2 separate regions of the Homo sapiens genome follow, and region 1 is linked to region 2. Evidence: fine-mapped expression QTL. A gene starts in region 2. The other region holds a variant in brackets. All regions are shown on one strand. Distances are between the middles of the regions.

Region 1 (4,392 bases), 22 kb before region 2:
CCGACAACCAAACATACTTGGCCCATTGATGACTGAACGCAACGTCACAGCATTTTTCCTTCATTGCTGTATGGTAACCCATTGCGCAGCCTTAAGATAATAAATTTATTTTTGCCTCTTAAATTCTACAAAACAATTAGCATTAGTTATACAAGAATACTATTATCAAATAGCTTTCTGCTTATTTAGAAGGCCAAATTTAAGAGGCATTTGTAGCTGTCTTTTTTCTCTAGCATCATTAATAATAGTTATCTTCCCAAAATATTGCCAGAAAACAATTTAAATCTATTTTCCAAGAATGTAACTATCCATAATTTCAATCATGACCTGATAGTCCTGTGATAATGTAAATTGTAAGACCTGATCCCCTCTAAAACATATAAGAGAATTTTACAGCAAGTCTGAAAGCAAGGAAATGTTCTCCTCCCCCACACCACTTTGCAGCAGACATGTCCAGAGAAGCTTGCCAAAACTTTACATAGTATTCACGTCTTCCATCTGTCTGGCTTCTTGTTCTTGGAAGTCTTTCTGGCAATCAGGTCAAGGCTTCCTTGGGAAGGTCTGTATGTTTTATGTTGCAAAATATAAGTTTGATAAAGTCAATAAATATATAATGAAGTAAGCTCAATCAGCATGGAATATCTATCCTCTACCCACAAATACAATTCTTGTGTTTTGGGGCTTCTGCAGGTTAAATGCAGCACATCTCTTAAAATTGCTAAGGTTCAAAATCTGATAATAGGTGACTGTTCCCCTGAAAAATATATCTTGAGTCTGCTGTTTTTTGCAAAGGTAGCAGACCAACATCTCATTTTTGTGGTTTTCCTTCACTATAATCATGTTTAGCTGCAATTTTATCAAACACATCCACAGGGTTCTTTAAAGAACCTCTTTGGATATGACCATTTCTGAATAGGATGAGACAATTTCTTGTCAGGGAACCCAGTGCAAGGAGGTCACTTCTATTATTGACTTGTTTAATTCAAAGAGTCCTAGGAGAGAGAGAGGAGGAAACACTTTTCTCACTTTATAGATGAAGAAAATTAGATTCATTAAAGTTTCATAACATGTCCAAAGTTATATTTTTTTGCATTGCCAGGGAAGAAGAAATAAGAACAAAGCATGTTCTGTCAGAGAAAGAAAATGTATGTGAACACTGTAATCTGCCTTAAAATATACAATGGCTGTCTCATACCTTGAGATCTAGTGATTTAATTAAACATGCCAATTGTGTTAAGATTTTACTTTAATTTTCAAGCAAAGATATATCTTCTTTGTTAATAACTTCTTAAATTTAAATACTCTTTTTTATGCTGGATCTTATTCATACGGATCTTAAAGTCAAATTACAAAGCTGATAATTTACACAGACTTTTAAATTTTAGATTTTTTTCTAGATCCTAATAGACATTATGCTAGACACCCTTAAAACATCCTCATTGAAACTGTATATGACTGATACTATTCTCCTCAATTTATATTACAACTACATATGGTCAGTATTATTCTCCCTAAATAATAGTAAGAAATTTGGGACACAAAGAGGTGAGATGGCTTCTACCTAAAGACACAGGTAATAAGTAAAAGGGCGAATGTGATATTCATATCCTAAGTATAAGGGTAAGAAGACTGGTCAGAGGGCCTAGGTTCACGTTCTTGTTTAAAATAGTGAACAGATCATATGTTTCTCTACCTCCTCCCTCCACATCCAACTGTAATGACAGGAAGTACGTACAAGAGGGAGCAAGTACAGTGAGGAGAAGTACCTGACCAGAGATTTGAAAGAATTCTCCAGGATCGTGATGATAAGCCAGGGAGGGGTGGCAGCTAAGGCTATGCTTAGCAGAAGCCTGGAGCACAGGTCGAAAATGCTCATGCAGGACAGCTTGTGTTAAGACCATAGTTGGCAGGCATCAGGAGTGTGAGTGGAAACTAAAGCAGGCATCAAGGTGATTAAATGAAGGACTTACTTCTAAACAGATACATGAGTTGCCACATCCCCTCCCTACAGCACAGTGATGGCATTTTTTCCCAAGCAAAAAATCAAGAACTCTTCTGCAGAGATTGAAAGACATTTCTGGGAAGAGTGAAAGTTTCTAGAATGGTTATTAGTTCTCCTAGAGTAAAGGTCCAGGGTGGGGCAGAGACTGCCAGCTTCTTTGTCTAGCTTCCTAAGGGGAAAGAAGCCCAATAGTCAAGGCAGAGATCTGTTGAGGAACAAGGCCTGCACATGTGTCACAAGATACG[T/C]CCCACCTAACTTTACAATTTAACCTAGTCCTTCAATCATAAAAATAATGACCAACTAAGGATCATATTTAGCAGAACTGGTGGCATAAAGGAGAACAGACATAAACAAGCAAAACAACTGAAGTTGGAACAACAATAATTCAGGGAACAAAAGAGACTTTATAGATATTTAAATTAAGATCCTCAAAGAGATTTAAGAAAATGAACAGACAACTATGAAAAATAATCCGAGAGCAAAAAAAGGGTTCATGAACATTAAGAGAAATTGCCAAAGGAAAACTATTTCAAAATAACAAAAAAAGAAAAGAATAAAATCTCTCAGAAGTTTTTTTTTTAAAGGAGAAAATGAAAGAAAAGTTAAGAAATATAGAAATCTATCCAGAAAGTCAAATATTCAACTGTAGGAGTTACAGAAAGAGAAACTGGATAGCAGAAAATAATTTATGTAATCATAAAAGAAAGTTTCTGAGTGAAAAAGTCTAAAAGGGCCCACTAAATGGCAAGTGTAATCAATAAAATGAATCACATCTAAGCACATCATCATGAATATTCAGAACCCCAAGGAAAAAGAAAAGATATTAAAAGTTTCCATAAGGAGAAAATATTACCTACAAAGGTATAATAAATCAGGTTACATCAAAGTTTTCATAAGCAACAATGAATGCTAAAAACAATATAACAATGTGTTTAAAATTCTGAGGGCAAAATGACTTTGAACCTATACTTCTGTATTCTGACTAACAGTTAGAAGACATTTTCTGGCACGGGAAGACTTAGAAATTATAAATTCTACATATCCTGTCTGAAAAATGTGTTTGAGTGTTCCATAGGGTGAAAAAAAGAAAAAGAAGAGGAAGAATTTTAGAAATAAGAAGGCTTGCATCCAACACACAGTTGTTGAACTAATCCAAAAGGTCAATAATTTGAAAAGATGTCCATGATAGTTGTTCTGCAAAAGACCTAAAGCGACTTATACAAATCACAGGACTCCAGGAATGTCTTCAATAAAAATATGAATTTTCTTTAACAAATGGAATGATTGATTTAAGAAGTTGGGCTGGCGGGGTGTGGTGGCTTATGGCTGTAATCCCAGCACTTTGGGAAGCCAAGGTGGGTGGATCACCTGAGGTCAGGAGTTCAAGGCCAGCCTGGCCAATATGATGAAACCCCGACTCTACAAAAATACAAAAATTTAGCCCAGTGTGGTGGTGCATGCCTGTAGTCCCATCTACTTGGGAGGCTGAGGCATGAGACTTGCTTGAACCCAGGAGGAGGAGGTTGCAGTGAGCCAAGATCATGCCACTGCACTCCAGCCTGGGTGACAGAGTGAGATTCCGTCTCAAAAAAAAAAGAAAGAAAGAAAGAAAAAGTTGATCTTAGAAATAAAATGACTCCTTGGGTTTTTTTTTTTAACATAATAAAAAGGCAATTAGCAACTCCAATGGGTGGGGAAAAATCTTGATGGAGATATGCACAAATAAAACGTAGCATGGTTTTAAGCAAGTGATCTAGAAAAAGATCTGGACTTTGAAATTTGGAAGATTCTTAAAATGGCAGGATCCGATTATTTATCTGTCAATTCTTAGAGGAAATTAATGGACAAAGCAGAGAATTCTTTTACTCTAGTAACAGAATACAAATGTTATTATCTTTAATTATCCAAAAATATTAGAATAGTCAACAGAGGTAGGAGGGCAAAAGAAGAAAAGAATAAAAGGTATCTAAAATTTATAGATGCAAAAATCAAAATAACCAACAGAAAAATTATAACTATAATAAAACAATGGAGAGGGTAAAGAAAGAAAGGAATATAACGAAACCAAATTCCACATTTTTCATATTGGAGAAGCTAATGATGATTTTATTTCCTAAAACTCATACTGCCAGTTTTCGATTGTGACTACTCTTCACTAGGGATAAGTCTGCCTATACTTCCTTCTCCTGTCATGCAGAATTGGCCTCCTCTAACTCCTCCAAGTCGTCTCACTTCTGGCTCTTCCATTCTTTATTTATTTATATATTTTTTGAGATGAAGTCTTGCTCTGTCACCCAGGCTAGAGTGCTGTGGTGCGATCTTGGCTCACTGCAACCTCCGCTTCCTGGGCTGAAGCAATCGTCCAGCCTCAGCCTCCTGAGCAGCTAGGA
Region 2 (4,392 bases):
GAAACAAGGAACTCTCTGTTCCTCCTGCTCCCTTTTCGCCTCTCATCTGAGGCTTGCCACTCCGCGGACACACCCGGCGCTCGCCAAGTTGTCGCATCGCCCCCCGGTGGGGAACGCCCCTCCCTGCTCTCCGGACAATTGGAGGGAAGCACAGAGCAGCGGGGGTGTCTCCGTCCTGCCAAGGGCTGCCTGTCCCTCGCCCAGTGCGGGGAAACTGGTCCGAGAGAATGAATGGCTTTCGCCGAGCGCCGGAAGCTGACGGGCGTGGGGCGCTTCTTGCCCCCAAGCACCCGCGCCCGCGTGGGGTGTCCCTCAGCCCGGGTCTCTACTCTGAGGGTGAGAAGCGTTCGCGTCACAGCCAAGGGTTCCTTCCTCACACGTGCACCCACCCACAAGACCGGAAGGAAAGCTTCGCTTTTGCCTTCCCCCCTGCCCCCCGGCCCTCCCTACCTGAATTCCGGGACCAGGTTAGGCTGCAACCCGTAGATGGCAGAGGAAAGAGTAACCAGCCACCCGGGCTTGTAACTCCCGTTCTCGCACTCCAGATAAGGCGGAGACCACTTGAAGTGGCTCTTGTCCCCGCCGAGCCCGTCCTTGCGCCGCCAGCTGTGGCCCAGGCCCCGGGGCCCCTGATTGGGGCCGCGGCGGTGTAAGTGGGGCCTCCACTTGCGCCGGAGGCCGTGGAACCACTCGGTCTCCAGAGTGGCGTTGGCCAGGTGGGGTGCGGAGGAGGACAGGTCTTGGAGCAGGATGCGGCTCTCCTCGCGCGTGGCCTGGAGGAAGACCTGTGGGGCCGGTGCGGACAGCGAATCGGTGCTGAAGGTGATGGCCGCCCGGGAGATGCTGGGCTCGCCCTCCAGAAGGCTCCACACCAGCGCCTGGTACCAATCCAGGTCGTCCTGCAAGTTCTGCTCCCGCGACTTATTGCTCTGCAGCATCACGTTGAGGAAGTTGGTGGCGTGTGTCAGTGTGTCCAGCGCCCGGTGCAAGGAGGGGTGCGCGCTGGCCAGGGCTGGCCACTTCCCCGGCAGGCCCGCCAACTCGTAGCGGCCGGAGCAGTTGGCTCGCTTCAGCTGGTGGGAGTCCCCGGTGTAGAGGTAAGAGGCCACGTCCATGGGCACCTCCTCGGCGAGTTTCTGCGCCAAGATGGTGCCATCGGTGGAGCGGCTCCAGGGAGCCGAGGAGTCCGAGGCAGAGGCTCGACCCGGCTGCTGGGCGTGCGGCTTCCCCTTCGGGGTCCTCTCTCGAGGGGAATCCGGCCGTCCTTGGGGGTCGCGGCTGGCGCCAACAGCTCCCAATCCCAGCTGAGCAAGCAGGAGGCAGAGGAGTAAGGGGTAAGCCATGGCTCCCATCTGCCTCCCAGAGAGAAGAGGAGGGAACGGGAGGGGGGGGAATCACTTTTTAAATTTGGATCGTCAGTTTCTCAACAGTCAGACTTTTTCGAGGAGTCTTCCCCCTTCTCCAGATGGCACCCAGTCCAAAGGACTTGAAAATAAGAATGTTTCGAGATTGGCCCCGGGTGGCTAAGCTACCGTCGCAGAAATCAAGTCACCTGTGGCAGCGCTGGCCGTGCCCGCTGCGCGAGGGGCCGGCTGGGGATTACGCACCTCGCAGCCTGGAGCCGAGCGGGTTACATGGCCTCGCGCTCCCAGCGGCTGGAGTCAGCCCGAGTCCGTCTCTCGGCCCGGCTGCCGCCACCGCCGCTCTCATTGAGGCGCGTTCAGAAGCTGCTGCTGCTGCTGCCGCCGCGGCCGCCGAAGACGCTGCTCCATAGTCTCACCCGCCGCAGGTCGTTCCCGCCTCCCGGCACTGGCTCCTCCTCGACCGCTTCGCCCGGAGGCGCGGGGCGCGCGCCCAGACCCGCACCGCGAGCGCAGCCGCGACTCCCGAGGAGCGAAGACGTCCTTTAAGACGTTCGTCTGTCCGGAGTAGCGAAGGCCGGGCGGCTGGTTAATTGCAGCCTTTAGGTTTGGCCGCAAACCACACTCCACCCTCTCTCCCTGCTCCCTCCTCGGGGGAGGAAAGCCAGTTTAAAGAGGCAGCTTGGCCGCAACCAAACCCTTGTAGGGCGGCTGCAAGTCGTCTTGTTCCCTGTTTGGTCGGCTCCTCTGTCAATCAGCCGACTGCCATTTGTGGGGCCGGGGAGGGAGCTGTCCAGTGCTGAACCCGAGGCGGCCCGCGGGCGGCGGGGGCGCGGGAGGCAGCCTGCCGAGTCCTCGCACCCACTCGCGTTCCGGATGACTCGGAAACCTGCGTGGGTGGCGTAGGGTGGGCGGCAGAGGGGGGAGAAGCAGAGATTCGGTGGCTCAGAGCGAAGGAAACTTGGACGTACTGAGGGGGAGGGTGTTGGCGTCTTGCATGCTTAGTTAAATCAGCCTTTTGCCTGGAAAAGAGGGAGAAGGGAGTAGTTTTCATTTCTAGGTGAAATTAGACAGAAGGGACATAGGATGGAGACGTGTCCTCCTGAGCATCTGCTCATTTTAGGCAAATTATCAAATCATCTTTCTTGTTGTCAGTTAAAGAAATGATTAAAACATACTTGTCTAGGCTCATCTTAGCTGAGGGAGTAATGGAGAAATCTACCAGCTGTGCTTTAAGGAGAGAAAAAAAAGTCATATTTAAGGAATCTCTGCTTGGGGGCCAGAATGGAGGGGAACGTGTAAAAATGTATGCAAGTAAAGATGTGTAAGGGAGAGAGCAAGGGGGAGGACTCATGAGCTCTGGGAGAATGAGAAGGAGCCTGTGTTGAGTGAGAAGGGAAATCATCCTGACTGGGAGTTCCTGGAATTGAGAGATAAGAACTAAGACTTCTATTTAGCTAAAGGTTGGGATATCCCAGCAGAAGAAAGAAGAACTGAGCAAGTATGCCAAGTCCCCCAAATTATTGGTAAATTTCTTAACACAATCTAATTGATGTTTTGACGCTTATTAGAGAATTTAAGTGTCTTCTGACACTCCAAAAGTAGACTGGTACCAGAAAAGTAGTGTTTTGCACAGCTAGCTCCACTTTCCATATGCACCTCTATTTTCAAATTCCCCAAGAAAGACACAAATAGAAAATATCCAACTTACTTTAATTCCCAACTAACAAAAATGTCCCTCATGGCATTCTAAGCAGGCACTGCTTAGATTCACTGTACTATTTCATGTCATCCTTCCTATTGAGAAAATACTTAAGGACTGGAATGTAAGCTCCAAAAGAGCAAAAATCTTTGTCTGCATTGGTCACTGAGGTACCTTGAGCACCCAGAACACTACCTGGCACATAGTAGGCTCTGGCTAAATAGTTGCTAAATTAGTGAATGAATGGGAAGATCATGATGATGAAGCTAACTTAAAAATCAATCTCCTCACCCAAGAAGAGAAGTCTGCCTGACACACCAGTGATGAGGGTTTTTGGAAGAAGACACAGCAACCAGTTTTTCAAACCGCAGTGGTTGGTCTCCAAATGAGTTTTTATAGTTATGCAAAGAGTGGTTATTAGATTTATATTTACTTACAAGTAGATTTCATGTTCATTTCCGACTTTTTGTTTAAATTTTTCTTTGCAATGTATGCTCCTATGCTAAGTAAAGGTCATCCCGGTTTAGTGCTCTGCCACAGTATGGGTGGCAATAATAACAGAAAGAGTTTCTGCTTATTTAATGTATCAAAGTATAAACTATGGTATTCCATTTACTTAACCATCTAAAGTCCGAAGTATAATTTCCTCATTCATTGATCCTTTTAGAAAACCTATATAACTTATTAACAATTCTTTAAAATCCTCTAGTATCTAACTTAAAAGAAGACATAATTGTATTCGTAGATCCTTCTGTAAGTAATCAAATGAACTAAGCACAATCAAAAGACCTGGATTCTGGTTCTAGCTTTATTTTAAAGGAAGATATATGACCACTGGCAAGACATTTAAAATTTCTGTGTCTTGGGACACAAACTGTGTGTGGGCCTCGGGATTTCACATTGAGGTTGTACGGGGGAGGCACCTGAGCTAGTCTCCCAGGGCACCAATCCTTTCCCAAGTGCATATCTAATGAGAAAGATGCAGAATATGAGAGACTCTTGCAATTATAGTATTCCCTTCAATGGATCCCCTTCAACCTACATTGCCAAACAGCTGGGATGAGCTAGTTGGATCTAGAACAGCACTGCCCAATAGAAATACAATGTGAACCAGAAGTAGGATCCTTATAAATAATTTCAAATGTTCAAATAGCATATTAAGATAGTAAAAAGAAAAAGACTGAAATTAATTTTAATAGTAAATTTTATGTAACCCAATATATCCAAATTTTTATCATTTCAATAAGTAAACAATGTAAAAGTATTAATGATATATTTTACACTTTTTACACTAAGTCTTCAAAATCTGATTTGTATTTTACACTCACA

The links. PIP is the estimated chance that this variant, and not a neighbour inherited with it, causes the effect. A credible set is the group of variants that fine-mapping cannot tell apart.
Region 1: its variant is the best candidate, but not a certain one, in a credible set for the expression of GPR158 in lung (TOPMed, PIP 0.54).

What each region holds. Positions count from the first base shown.
Region 1 is chr10:25,194,420-25,198,811 of GRCh38, reverse strand. The region is part of intron 1 of GPR158 (G protein-coupled receptor 158); the gene reads right to left. Among named protein-coding and RNA genes, the nearest start is that of GPR158-AS1, 20 kb to the right of the region's middle. The variant T/C (reference allele first, on the strand shown) is at 2,248.
Region 2 is chr10:25,172,381-25,176,772 of GRCh38, reverse strand. GPR158 (G protein-coupled receptor 158) reads right to left here and starts at 1,772. Exons shown (of 11, transcript NM_020752.3): 1 at 451-1,772. The coding sequence starts at 1,352. It overlaps GPR158-AS1 (GPR158 antisense RNA 1), which reads left to right and starts at 497. Exons shown (of 2, transcript NR_027333.2): 1 at 497-1,097.